Linked DNA regions of Homo sapiens: region 2 is linked to region 1. The links come from fine-mapping of genetic effects on gene expression. Tissue or cell type: tibial nerve. Region 1 holds a variant in brackets; the other region holds the start of a gene. All regions are shown on one strand. Distances are between the middles of the regions.

What was found. PIP is the estimated chance that this variant, and not a neighbour inherited with it, causes the effect.
Region 2: it holds the start of PLAAT5, and the variant in region 1 is fine-mapped to the expression of PLAAT5 in tibial nerve (GTEx, PIP 0.98).

The regions. Positions count from the first base shown.
Region 1 is chr11:63,508,746-63,515,917 of GRCh38, reverse strand. LGALS12 (galectin 12) reads right to left here. Exons shown (of 9, transcript NM_033101.4): 3 at 6,927-7,140; 4 at 6,021-6,140; 5 at 5,417-5,455; 6 at 4,813-4,839; 7 at 4,078-4,166; 8 at 205-355. Among named protein-coding and RNA genes, the nearest start is that of LGALS12, 6.2 kb to the right of the region's middle. RefSeq lists an enhancer at 5,054-5,685. The variant C/A (reference allele first, on the strand shown) is at 4,221.
Region 2 is chr11:63,487,618-63,494,633 of GRCh38, reverse strand. It overlaps PLAAT5 (phospholipase A and acyltransferase 5), which reads left to right and starts at 3,467. Exons shown (of 6, transcript NM_001146729.2): 1 at 3,467-3,747; 2 at 4,301-4,391; 3 at 5,658-5,763. The coding sequence starts at 3,600.

The DNA.
Region 1 (7,172 bases):
AATTGAGTTTCTGGCCATGGGATCCCTGGCATCAGAGTGGAGCGTTGAGGACTGCTGTACAGACATTCGCTGTGCTCTGCTGGCTCTGGCCTCCCACCCCATAACATCTGTCCTGCACACCTGCCCCAGCATCTCCCAGGTCATTATGGGACTTCAGCTCTGTGCTCCAGCCTGAAGGGATGTAATCATTTGGCTCTGACCTACCTCAAAGAATCTCTGGGGGTAAAAGAGGAAGGGGGCTGAGATCAGTTTCTTCTGCCCCCAGCGGGAGATCCAGGCCAGAGTTCTGTCTGCGAAGGAGGCCCTGAGTGTCACAGGAGCATGGGCAGCCTGGTCCCTCAGGCTCACAGTAAAACTGCAGGAAGCAGGAGGAAGGAGAAGGAATCAGCGCCCATTGCCCATAGGCCGCTGCTCAGCCCCCAGGGGAAGGATGGAGGTCAGGGAGTGGATGGAAGGTTGAGCTGCTTCAGCCTCCAGAAACAAGCACTGAGGGCCTATGACAGCCTCATGGCTGAATGCTCAGAACAGTGGAAAGAACACGAGTTCTAGATGAACTTGAGATTGACCTCCAGGGTTGCCATCTATGACTACAGGAGGATGGGGGTGGGAGGGAAGTGTGTGAAAATTGCCTAGCCTGAGCTTCAGTTTCTCCTCCTGAAAATGGGGATGATTATGATGATGATAGCTACAGCTAACATTTATTGAATGCTAACTAAGTGCCAGGTATTATCTTAAATGTTTTCCAAACAGCATAGTGGTTAGAGTCAGGCAGTCCCGATTCAACCCTGGCTCTGCTACTTTCTAGTCCTGTGACCTTGGGCAAGACTCTTAATCTCTCTGTGCCTCAGTTTCCTCATCTGTAATGTGACGATAACATAACTGCCCTGTACCTGCCTGTGGCATTGTTGTAAGAATTAAATGAATACATAAAAAAATGCTTATTTAGAATAGCACCTGGAACGTAATAAGCATTCAGATGATACCTATTGTTTAAAAATATTGCTATATAATACAATCTCTACCTCATAGAGCCAAAAAAAAAAAGGAACAAAGGAGATAATGTATGTGAAAACTAGCAATTCCTAGCACACAGTAGGTGTTTTACAGAAGCTAGTTTGCCTTTCCTTAATCCTCACAAATTCTGTGCTGTGAGGTTTGTCAGCCCATTTAAGTGATGAGGACAAGAAGTTAAATGACTTCTCTGTTACTAGTAATAGTGGTAGGGCCTTAGGTTAGGATGTGAACTAGGATTCATGACTCTAGATTTGGGGGTGGGGGGATCTGGCACCTGCCTCTCAAATAGGGCAACCGGATTATATTATTTTTCTTTATTTTATTTTATTTTTTTGAGACAGAGTCTTGCTCTGTCACCAAGCTGGAGTGCAGTGGCACGATCTCGGCTCACTGCAACCTCTTCCTCCCAGGTTCAAGCAGTTCTCCTGCCTCAGCCTCCGGAGTAGCTGGGACTACAGGCGCATGCCCGCACCGCCCAGCTAATTTTTGTATTTTTAGTAGAGATGGGGTTTCACTATGTTGGCCAGGGTGGTCTCGATCTCTTGACCTTGTGATCTGCCCACCTTGGCCTCCCAAAGTGCTGGGATTACAGGCTTGAGCCACCGCGCCCGGCCCAGATTATTTTTATGTCTTGGGAACTTCCCAAGTTTCCTTCTTGAAGAGCTATGCTGGAGAAGGCGCGGCATCCTGATGGGATGCAGAGGCAGGTAAGGTAGGGGAAAAGGCCGCCCTGGACAGGCCTTTCAAGGGCTATTGGTAGATCCTTACAGGAGGAGGCCCCGTAAGTTTCCAACTTTGGGAAGGAGGTGGCCAGGGCCCAATGTTGGGAAGAAGCTTGGAAGGCAGGAACCCTGGAGAGTGGACTGCGTGGAGCCTCCAGCCCCACTATGGCTCCCCCTACCCCGTCCTGCCAGACAACACTGTGTCTTCCTCTGGCCTGCGAACTCCTGGTGAGGAGGCCTCAGTGTCTCCCTACCTCACCTTCATGCAGCTCAGCCCGCCAGATCACTGGATAATCATGAATCACTAGATGCCCACTAGATCACTGAATAATCACAAATCACCAGATGCCCAGTGAAGCTCTGTTGAAGCTCTTTGAGGCTGCAGTCATACACTCCCACTCAATAACGAGGAGGGAAGGGATGAGGTGAAGAAGGAGGGATAGATTTTCACTGCAGATGAATCCTGTGCCCTCCATCTCTTACTCTCTCTGCCCCATTCAAGCCATCAGTTGCTTTCACAAAATAGCAGCAGCTGCATTGGTTGCAGCCTCGCTAAATACCAGGTGCTGTGCTAAATCTTCATGTTGGTGGATCTCGGCTGAACTGGTGTATAGGAATGTTTTGTCTGGTCCATAGTATTCTTCAACTTTAATATAATATTCAAAAATTGAGAGAGTTTATATAAAAGATGGCTTCTATTTTTGCTTTAAAAATAGTCAGAAGATCTGGCATGACTGGGTGTATGGAGATACTCCTTCCCCTTTACCACCTTCCCAACTGGTTTCCTCACTATTTATGAGACCTGTCTGGCCTCTGAGGACACATGCATTCATGGCCCTTGGGAAACAGCAGTTACTTGCTGACTATGTCACTAGTAACCTTGTGACTTTGAGCTACAATATGAACCCGGTCTCATGCCTCCAAGTTTTGTGGGAAGAAGTGTTCCATCACTGAGCACTTTTCATTTTCCCTAGCAGGTTGGAATTATCATTCACCTTTTTCCGGTAGGGAAACTCAGACTCAGAGAGGTTTAGTGACTGGCCCACGACCGCACTGTTTATAAGAGACAAAACCAGGAATCCAACTCAGTCATGCCTGTCTTTGGAGGCCGAGGCCATCGAGTGCTGGGCTTCATGCCTGTCCCAGAATTCACAGGCATGATCGGCAGTGTGCAGGGCAAGGGTTTAGTGAGGTCAGTGACTTAAAAATAAAAACAAAATTAAGCAAGGAGAACATAGGGTGCTTTCCTTACTCTGCCCTCCCCTACCTCCACTGAGATGATTGCAGTAGTACCCACATTTGTGGACACTTACCATGTACCAGGCACTATTCTAAGTACCACCCCTAAAGTCGGCATTATTATCAACCCCCTCTATCTTTTTTTTTTTTTTTTGAGATGGAGTCTTGCTCTATTGCCCAGGCTGGAGTGCAGTGGCGCGATCTCGGATCACTGCAACCTCTGCCTCCCGGGTATAAGCGATTCTCCTGCCTCAGCCTCCTGAGTAGCTGGGATTACAGGCATGCGCCACCATGCCCGGCTAATTTTTCTATTTTCAGTAGAGTCAGGATTTCACCATGTTGGTCAGGCTGGTCTCCAACTCCTGACCTCGTGATCCACCCGCCTCGGCCTCCCAAAGTGCTGGGATTATAGGTGTGAGCCACCGCGCCCGGCCTATCATCCCCTTCTTACAGAGAGGAAAACAGAGGCACAGAGAGGAAAAGTATCTGTCCTAAGGTTGCACAAGTAGGTGTCCTGAGCACATGCCAACCCAGGCATTCTGGCCCAGAGAAGTCATAAACTCTAATGCGTTTCCTCAAGGCAGGCCGGCCAGTGGCTCCTGTCTAACTGGATTGGAGCCACAGGTCTGGGTTTGAAAGCACCATGTAGGAGAAGTTTGGTAATGTCCACTTAGTCACTGGGTCCCTCCAAGTCCTGGCTTCCAAATACCAGCCCTCTTCTCTGGGGCAGTCTGGCTGTATCTTTTGAACCACACATTGTGTTACCATAGGAAGCTACATGTTTGCTCTGGGCCTCAGCCTGCACCTACGAAGGGCCTTTCCTGGGGCCCCTTTCCTAGGACCTGGGACAAGAGGCTAGGCCTGACTAGATGTACCAGCAGGAATGATGCTCCCAGCAGTGGGGCTGTCGGTCCCAGTCCCAGCCTGACCTTCATAAGCTCTGCCAAATTGGGCCACTTCTCCTTTCTGCTCCTCTGTTTCCTCATCTGTAAAATGGGGATTAAATGGTGGTGCTAGGAGATTAAAAGAGATGATGTTTTATAGCATGTGACTGTCACAGAGAGGCTGCTCCCTCCCCTCCACTTAGATGCTGGATACTTACTGCTTCGGCTCTTGCAAGACCAGTCCCCGTACTATGATGACCTGCCCAGGCGAGAGACCCTGGGGAAGAGCATGTGAGCAGGGCACCTCCTGAAGGAACAAGGGAGGTATTGAGAAGTTGACTTCCAGGGGGACTGGGGAGGA[C/A]CGCCCATCCCCGGGGGCCAGGGGAGCACTGGGGCAGGCATGTTCTGCCCAGGCCTGCCGCCAGGACACGCTGCTTATTTGTTAAGCACCTGGCCTCCTGTACTCTGTTATTGCCGAACACTTTCCCCGGCCTGTCCAGGCTGAGCTTGGCCTCTCTGTGTCCCGACCACCATGTCCTTCTCCCTTCACTGCATCCTTAACTGTAATTGCCATCTAGTGGTCTGTCCCCCACCAGCCTGTGAGCAACTGGACGGCTGGGACCAGCTTGTTCCTCTATCCTAGAGCCTGGCACCGGGCCTGGCACAGAGAAGTATCAAGTAATGATGTTCACAATAAGTGGAGAAAAGGTAAAATGAAGCTGGAGCTTCAGCCTGAAGCTGCCCAGCCCACCCACAGCCTGCAGCTTGCTATAAAGGAAGGGGAAATCATGCGGCTGGGGGCATAAGCTGCCTGGCCCACCCACAGCCTGCAGTTTTCTATAAAGGAAGGGGAAATCCTGAGGCTGGGGGCATGTCCTACCAGGCTGAGCTCATTAGCTGCTCACCCAGGCTGCGCCCCCAGCCCTGACAGAGCAGGAGGGAGGTTCACTCACCAGCCTGGGGCTCATCAGCAGGAAAGGCTGTCAGGGAAAGAAAGAGAGGACACAAGGCCATGTGGTATTTGCTCAGGAAAAGGGAAACTCTTGTTATTCTAACAAATTGGGAATATTTGGGGCTTGTCTCTCTCACAGCAGTAGGTGAGTCATTGGAGCCCCAGTGGGATCCTCTGGACTTCAGAGGTTCACCAGCGCTGGAATAATAGGGAAGAACGGGGTGGAGGATTTGTCATCCACTCCCTGTGTGGCCTTGGGCAGTACATGGGCCTCATCTCCCCTTCTGTCCCGCAAGACCAACCCCAGCCACCTTGCAGAGGTGGTTTGAGAAATGAGCATTTCAACTAAGGCCTCTCCTGCTAGGAATACGGGGTCTTGCCCCCTCTGCATGCAGCCCACCCCCATTCATCTTCCCAAGCTGGGCCTGGAGAGGGGCTGGGAGAGGAAAATCCAGGCCCTCCAGAGACTGAAGCAGAGCCAGCCATGTCCGTGGCAACCGCAGCAGTGAGGGAAGGGGCAGCTGGGCCTTGTGTAATGGGAGCAGCAGTCCAGAAGGGCGGGTCAGCTGGTGTGGCTGCTCAGACCTTGCTGCCAAGAAACTCACATGTCCAGCTGGGTACTCTCTGCTGCCCTCCACAAATGGCTGTTCAGAAAGAGAGAAAAGAATCAGCAGCATTTAGGACCACTGCAATCCCCTACCTATGCCTGGGAGGTGGGCAGAGCCCTGGCCTTTACAGCTCCTCATGTTCCCATTCGGCTGGTCAGTGGTAGCTTCTTGCTGGCATTTTGAACATCCCAATTCCTAGGCCCCACCTTGGACTTACTGAATCAGAATCTCTGGTGGCAAGCCCCAGAAATCTGGGCTTTAATAAGCCCATCAGGTGGGAATGATAAAGCCAGCTGCCACCCGTTTCGGCCCCCAGTGTGCCAAATCATTCCTGGCCATTGCTTCTCAGTGTTAACCAGACCCACACTGGTTACAGACTCCTGCCTGCGGCTCCTGGACACCCTTTCTGCCATCACTTTCTCTTCCCCCTCAGCCCACTCACACCCGAAACCTCAGTGGACTCCCTCCCCCTTGGCTATTACTGGTGCACAGGGCGTCCTCTCTCTCAGTCTAGGGTGGAGGAAGGGGTCCCAGGCCCGTCCAGGAGTCAGGGGAAATTAGAGGCTGCCACTGCCCAGGCCTTGGTCCCAAGGAAACTTACATTGATGTTCAGGAATCCAACAGCCTCTACCAGGATGTCACCAAATATACCCAGCGTGTCCACATGAGACAGTGGGAGCCGGTAGCGGAAGTGGAGAAAGTGCTGTCCATTCACACTCACCTGGAGAGACAGACAGAGGCTGGCTTATCAGCAGCTAATGTTCATTGAGTTCATAACAATGTCCCAGGCATTGCCAAGCACTTTTTCCTCAATTTTGCCTCACTTAACTTCACGTCATCTCTATGAGGTAGGTACATTTTACAGAGCCTTGGGCGGCTTAAGTAATCTTCCAAAGGTTGCAGAGCTGGCCTGGAGACTAAGGCACCTTCAACGCTCCCTCTACCCCAACAGAGGCCCCTCATTGTGCTTTCTCAGCAGCCCAAAGAGTCATCTTTGCTCCATTTACGTGAGGAAACTGAGGCTCAAGAGGCTACCCTCCCGCCAGCTGCCCTGTCTCCTGGAGATGTCTGAAGATCCCATCATGTTTCTGGCAGGAGCTCACATTAGGGGTCTAAACCTTGAGATCAAGTTCTCTGTCCCTCTCCCCTGCCACTGTGGCTGTAAGATGGGGATAATGAAGGTACCTACCTAATGGGGTTATTGTGAGCATTCAATGAGCAGATACTTTTAAGGGCTTAGAACAGTTCCTGGTATACAGTAGGTTCTCTCTAAGTGCTTGCCATGACTATGGCAGGAGTGCCCTCTTTGGAGCCAGGCACTGTAGAGCTTTCTTGCTGCCATGTGGGCCCAGGGCAGCCTGGAACCGGGCATGGCAGCTCCTTGGTCCTCTTGGTACCTGACCACTACCAATGCCACTCAACATTGTGTCGTGGGGAGTCTGGCTGAGGGAAGGAAGGGCGCAAGGACACAAATTCTAGACCACCCAATGCCCGTCCCTTCCTTCACCTTCACTTCCTCATTCCCGAAGAGAAAGAGGATGAGGAAGCTGGAGCCTCTTCGCAGGGCCAGGTGGGGCCACCGGGCCTCCCTTTGCCAGCGTCCACCATGCAGGGTGTTGCAGATGACATGGGGCTTGGTGGTATGGAAGCGAGGGTTGAAGTGGAAGGCGATATCTGGCCGGGGACACAGGCTGCAGCCACACTGGAAGTCCACCTGAAACCTACTGGGAGGTGAGGCTCTCAAAGTGCGGTT
Region 2 (7,016 bases), 21 kb after region 1:
TTCCAAGGTCCTTACATTGTTTCAGAGGATTGTTTAGGATATTAATTTTAGACTTAAGCATACATGTTAAAATTTCAAGGGCAATAAGTAAAAGAATACAGTGTAAACTTCCAAATAAGTAGAGGGAAAATGCAATATACTAAGATTAGATATTTATGAAGAATATTAGAAGAATTCATTGAAAGGTTTTAAAACCTAACAATAGAGAGATAGAATACATTATTAACTGAAAGAAACAATTTTGTAAAGATGCCAAAATTGCCAAGCTGATTTATTGATTTACTGTAATTCCAAGCAAAATGCCAATAGGGTATTTTGAGCAACTTGACAAACTAGTTTTGCAATTTATAATGAAAGGCAAAAGCTCAAGCATGGTTGAGAAGTTCCTGAGGAAGAATAAGTAAGGAGGGATCTTGAGATATTTGTACATCAAGATTTATCATAAAGATGTAGCAATTAAAACCACATGATAGTAGCACAAAGACAGATACATTTATCAGTGATACTGAATAGAGTCAACAGTATTCCTGCTCTTTCAAAGCATTATGCAGGACAGAGGTGGCCTTGTTCATCTATGAAGAAGTGGAAACTATCAACAAGTGATGCTGAGACAGTTATTCATATGAGGAAAAATGAAGTTGGATCCCTGCCTCCCACATATACAAAAATCAATTCCAAATGGATTAGCGAAAAAGGCAAAATTTAAAAACATTTTCAAGAAAATATAGGAGACTATCTGGCCAGGCACGGTGGCTCACGCCTGTAATCCCAGTACTTGGGAGGCCAAGGCAGGCAGATCATGAGGTCAGGAGATCGAGACCATCCTGGTTAACATGGTGAAACCCTGTCTCTACTAAAAATACAAAAAAAAAAAAAAAAAAAAAAAGAAAATTAGCTGGCCATGGTGGTGGGCGTCTGTAGTCCCAGCTACTCAGGAGGCTGAGGCAGGAGAATGGCGTGAACCCGGGAGGCAGAGCTTGCAGTGAGCCAAGATAGCACCACTGCACTCCAGCCTGGGCGACAGAGCAAGACTCCATCTCCAAAAAAAAAAAAAAAAAAAAAAAAAAAGAAAATATAAGAGAATGTTTTCTGAATTCAGGGCAAGAAAGACTTCATGAAAAGATAGGGAGCTGACCACAAAAGAAAAGACATGAATTCTACTTGTCAGAAGACATCATGAAGAAAGTGAAAAGACAAGCCATGAACTGCAAGAAAATGTGTGTAAACAAGTATAACTGACTAAAGATGAGTATCAAGAATATACAAAGAGCTCTACAAATCAAAAAGAACACAACTCCAAAGAAAAATGGGCAAAGGACATGAACAGACACTTTTAAAAAGAGGGAATGTGATAAATATATGTAAAGGTCTCAACTTTATTAGTGATCAGGGAAATGCAAATTAAAACGCTGGTGAAATACTATTTTACATTCACTCACCTGGAAAAATCAAGAAGTGTGACAATACTAAGTGTTGGTGAGGATGTAAATTAATAAATCTTACCCATTGCTGGTAGAAGTGAAATTGGGACCACCAATTGGGGAAATAGTTCTAGTGTTTTATTGTAAAGTTGGATATTTGTATATACTCCTAGGTATTACATCTTGTGTGATGTCTGCATGCATACACCAGGATACAAATTGGGTTCTTCTCAATTGTTTCCAACCCCAAATTGAAAAAAAAAAAAAAAAAAAAAAGAACCAACAAATCACCAAGTGGCTTTATCACTAGGTCAATAAATTGTGGTATAGCCACATAGTGGAATATTTTACTGCAGTGAAAATGAATTACAGGACTATACAGCACTGTGTATGTATTATAGAAACAACTTTGAAAGAAGAAAATTGCAGAAGAGAACTTAACAGCATGATACCATTTGTCTTAGTCCATTTGGGCTGCTATAACAAAATACCATACGCTGGGTGGCTTATAAACAACAACAATTTATTTCTCACAGTTCTGGAGGCTGGGAAGTCCAAGATCAAGGCACCAGCAGATTCCTGTCTTGTGAGGGACTGGTCTCAGCAACTGCTGTGTTCTCACATGGTGGAAGTGGCTAGGTAGCTCTGCAGGACCTCCTTTATAAGGGCTCTTATGAATCCCACTCATGACCAAAGGGCCCATCTCCTGATACCATCACTTTGGGGGTTAGAATTCTAGCACATGAATTTTATGGAGTCACAAACACCCAGACCATAGCACCATTTTTATAAAGTTTCAGAGAAGCAAAACAAAGTGATGTATTAGGGATACAAAGAAGCGATTTAAAAAACTATTTTAAAAAGTGAGGGTATGACAGACACAAAGGTCAGGATAGACGTTGGGCGTGCAGAGGGAGAAGGGATAAGGAAGGAATCCATAGGTGGGGAGCATCTGTACTAGGAATGTTCCATTTCTTACGTAGGATGGTTTTGTCATGGGTAGTAATTACATTATGTTTCCTAACTGTGTGCGAGAGAGAAGGAAAGAGAAAATCAGTTGGGGAAGACTCAATGCAGAAGCGGCCTGCCTGAAAAGTCACAGCAACAGGCAAAAATAAAACAACCTGGTAAAAAACTCAGGCTCCACCTGCACACAGATAAGCAGACAGGGTCCAGCACAGAAGCCTTTTGTTCTTTGTATAATTAGGGAGCTCCCAGGAAAGTTTTCTCCCCTTTTCAGGCATATACATGGTGGGAACTTTCACAGGGAGGAGGGGGGCTTACCTAAAACAAACCCACAGTTATGCAAACAAAAAAGGCGGTGCTTTGTGCTTGCATAGATACATAACCACAGCTGCGTAAGACAGCTTTACTGATAAGAGAAGTTACTCAAACTACTACAGAGATAAGAGATTTTCTTGCAAAAGCTTTTGAATTCAGCTGTAACAGGGCAATCCACTTGCATACTCAGCTCACTGTGGAGAGCTTTCTTCTTTCGCTTATTAAACTTTCGCTCCCACCTCACCTTATGTCCCGTTCCTTAATTTTCTTGGAGTAGGACAAAGAATCCCGGGTATCAGTCCAGACAAGGAGAAACTGCTACATTAAGGTACATTGGCAAGACTGCAACATGTGTATTCCATGTACTTTTTCATAAGTTATCTATTACGTAAGTGTAGATTTCATTTTCTATATATTTTTAAAAATAAAACAACTCTGAATTGTTCAAGATTTTAACCCCTGATTGTGCCTCCCAAGGCTTCCTAATCTGGTCTCCATTTACCCCTCCAAGTCACGCCTCTGTTCCAAACCGTTCAGCTTCTCCAGCCACTTTAGGCACCACCTCTGAGCCTTTGCTGTTTCCATGACCTTCCCCAAAACGAATAACCTCCTTCGCCCCTCTCCGCCTAAAAGACCCACAGATTCCCGGGCCTCTAAGCGCCCCGTTTCGTCCCATTCTGTTCTCGGACGCGCTCACTGCGCCCGCGCCACTGTCGCCACCCCGCGCGCCTCTGCCGTTTGCAGCCCGCGGCGCTTTCCCCTCCGCGGTTCCTCCCCGAGCCGCCCCCAGTGCCCAAGCTTCCGCGGCTCCGCCGACCAGGGGCCGCGCCGACTGGGAACTCGCCAGGGGCGTAGTCCCCTGCAAGGCCTGGGGGCCGGCGAGGCCGCAGAGGCGGGATGGGCCTGAGCCCGGGCGCCGAGGGGGAGTACGCGCTCCGCCTCCCTAGGATTCCCCCACCCCTCCCCAAACCCGCCTCGCGAACCGCCAGTACCGGGCCCAAGGACCAGCCGCCTGCGCTCAGACGTTCAGCTGTGCCCCACTCAGGTCAGCCCCAAGAATGCGGCTGAAGGACAATCCGCAATTGTCCTTCAGGTCCCAGCGGGCGGTTACCCTCAAAGCTCCTTTTCTTAAGACATTTGGCGATTGTGTTGTCTGTTAGCCATCATGAGCGAGTATTTCAGAACGACCGCTTGTTATAAAGCTAATCAAAGCGAGCCAGGCAGCCACTCCCTCCTTCCCGCTATATCTCATATGGAAGTGAGGCAGTGGTGGCAGCTCCGGAGGGTGGTGTTAAGACCGGCTCTGGCTCGGCAGAGGTTCCTCCCATCGGGCTTAGGATAGAGGCGAGGCGCCCTTCTTCATCCTCTCCCCGATTCCGTTCCCAGGAATCCCAAAGTCTCTCTTTGGCAGAGGAACTGAACCCGCTCCAGCACCTAGTTCCACAACCCTCTCCATTCATCCCAAGATTTTCTGAGGCCTAACCAGGGGCCAGGCACGATGCTAGACTAGAGCTCTGAGCCCACTCTCCGTAGCGGTCAAGGTGCTTGCTCGAACTCTCCTTTCACAGGTCTAAATAGCATTTCCCCCCTTGAATTAGAAGAATCCGTGGGATTCGCAGCGTTGGTCCAGCTCCCAGCCAAGCAGCCTCCGCCGGGCACATTAGAACAGGGCAGAAGCATCCAGCAAGGGTAAGAAGATTGTAAGGTTGGGGTCTTTGGGTGGAAGAAATCTTTTGGAGAATTGACTTGGAATGCAGTTCTGTAAAACAAACCCAGAGGTGGTTTTTGTGTGAACCAGCCAGCCGGTACCCAGCAAGGGGAAGGCTGGTGTGATCCTGGGTGATAACAGATGGTACTGGGCTTGGGACCTGCTGGCCACAGGCATGCGTTGCAGCTGTTTCTAGCCACAAGGCCATTCTCTAGACCCCAGAGAAATGAATGGCTTTAGCAGGAGGCTTACAGTATTGTCCTTGGTCTCACTAATCAGTGAACAATGAGTCGGCCTTTGGCAGATTTCCTGAATTCACTTTCATTAACAACATGATGATTGCTGCTTTAAAAAATTCCGAGGGGCTGAAATTTTGGAGAGGAGCTCTACTGAAAATGAGGGGTGTCCCCTCTGCCCCACACACTATTTTTTTCTGGAGAAGAGTTTAAAGCATGGGAAAAGGTAAAGAAAAAGTCATTTCTGAGTTGGTGGTATACCAGATGTTTACATGTGCTGTGTCCTTTCACCTTCTTGACCACTGTGAGACACATTTTCATCTCTATTTTTAAAGATAATCAAGCTGAGAGTCAGACATTAATTTACTAGCTCAAGGTGGGACAGCAATCATGAAAGCTAGGATTCAAACCTAGATCTTTTGGCTTCGAAGTATTTTACTCTACTATACTACCTTAATTTAATATGCTTGAAAGCATATTCTTGCCTTTCATTTCTGTCCTCTCCTGTAACATTTTGTTTCAAGGGAGAAATATACTGATTTCATTCATATTACTTGCAGTTGCAGTGTTGTGGCTTATCAAGCTTTCTTAGAAATCTGGGGCTAATTATTGGAAGAAAGAGTTCAAGGGGTTTGCCTCTGGGCAGTAGGGCTGGGATGAAAAGGGAAAGGAGGAAGGCTCCTTGCATTTCATTATAAATTCTTATGTACTGGAAACCATGTGCAAGTATCACTTTGATAAACATTAAAAAGACATTATTAGCAAATTAAAAAATAAAAACCCCCAAAACTGCTTCTTGCTATCATTAGCATTTGAACAATTGTCAGAAAACCAGCAAACAGCAATTCTTTTGTATGAAAGCTAATGGGTTCACAGAAACAAACGGGGGGAAATGTTCCCTACAGTCTCCAAACCAAAAGCCATCTTAAAAATCACAAATCTGTAATACAGATTTTCCAATAATTATGAAATAGTGATATTTGTTAACTTTGTGATTGCAAAATCATTTAGGGAGAAGGCTGTAGTTAGCTTGGAGACCACACCCAGCCAGAAAGCAGACTGGAGTTCAATTCCAAAGCCTGAGAATGAAGGCAAGTTAATAAAGCAAGCAGCTGAGGTAGGTGTAACAAGAATTCTCAAAGTGACTATCTTTAACCTCCTGGCAACTTCTCTACATATTGTATTTTACTTTGTTTCTAGGGGTGTCCAATCTTTAGGCTTCCCTGGGCCACACTGGAAGAAGAAACGTCTTGGGCCACACATAAAATACACTAACACTGACGATAGCTGTTGAGCTTAAAAAAAAAAAAAACCCACAAAAAAGTCTCATAATGTTTTAATAAAGTTTACAAATTTGTGTTGGGCCACATTCAAAGCTGTCCTGGGCTGTATGTGGCCTGTGGGCTGCGGGTTGGACAAACTTGGTTTAGATGGTCTAATAAATATCCTGATTTGGGATGTTGGTTATGCTTTGTTTTAAAGCAGTTTTATTGAGGTGTAATTGACATATAGTAAACTCCACATATCTAAAATATACAATTTGATAAATTTGGCATATATATATGCCAGTGAAGTGTATAGTTTGATACATTTTGACATCTATATATATATCCTGTCAAATCTTCACCACAATCAAGATAATGAATAATCTCTGTCATTTACAAAAGTTTCTTTGTGCCTTTTGTAATCCCTCTCTCTTCCCATACCACTCCCATCCCCAGGCAACAACTGATATGCTTTTTGTCACCATAGATGTGTTCACATTTTTAGAGATTTATATGAAATCATATTGTATGTGCACTTCTTTGTCTGTCTCCTTCATATAACTATATATATTTTTTTCGAGATGGAGTCTCGCTCTGTCGCCCAGGCTGGAGTGCAGTGGCGTGATCTTGGCTCACTGCAAGCTCTGCCTCTTGGGCTCACGCCATTCTCCTGCCTCAGCCTCCCGAGTAGCTGGGACTAGAGGCACCTGCCACCATGCCCGGCTAATTTTTTGTATTTTTGGTAGAGACGGGGTTTCACTGTGTTAGCCAGGATGGTCTCGATCTCCCGACCTCATGATCCTCCCGCCTCGGCTTCCCAAAGTGTTGGGATTACAGGCATGAGCCACTGCAGCCAGCCCATATAACTATTTTGACTGACATCCATGTTGTTGCTTTTTATCAACAGTTCATTCCTTTTTATTACTGAGCAGTATTTCATTGTATGGATATACCACTCTTGTTTATGTGTTCACCTGTTGATTGAGCATTTGAGTTGTTACTAGTTTTTGACTATCACAAATCTGCTTGAACATTTATGTACGAGTCTTTGTGCAGACTGTATATTTTTTCCTCTTGGGTGAATATGTAGGAATGAAATGGCTAG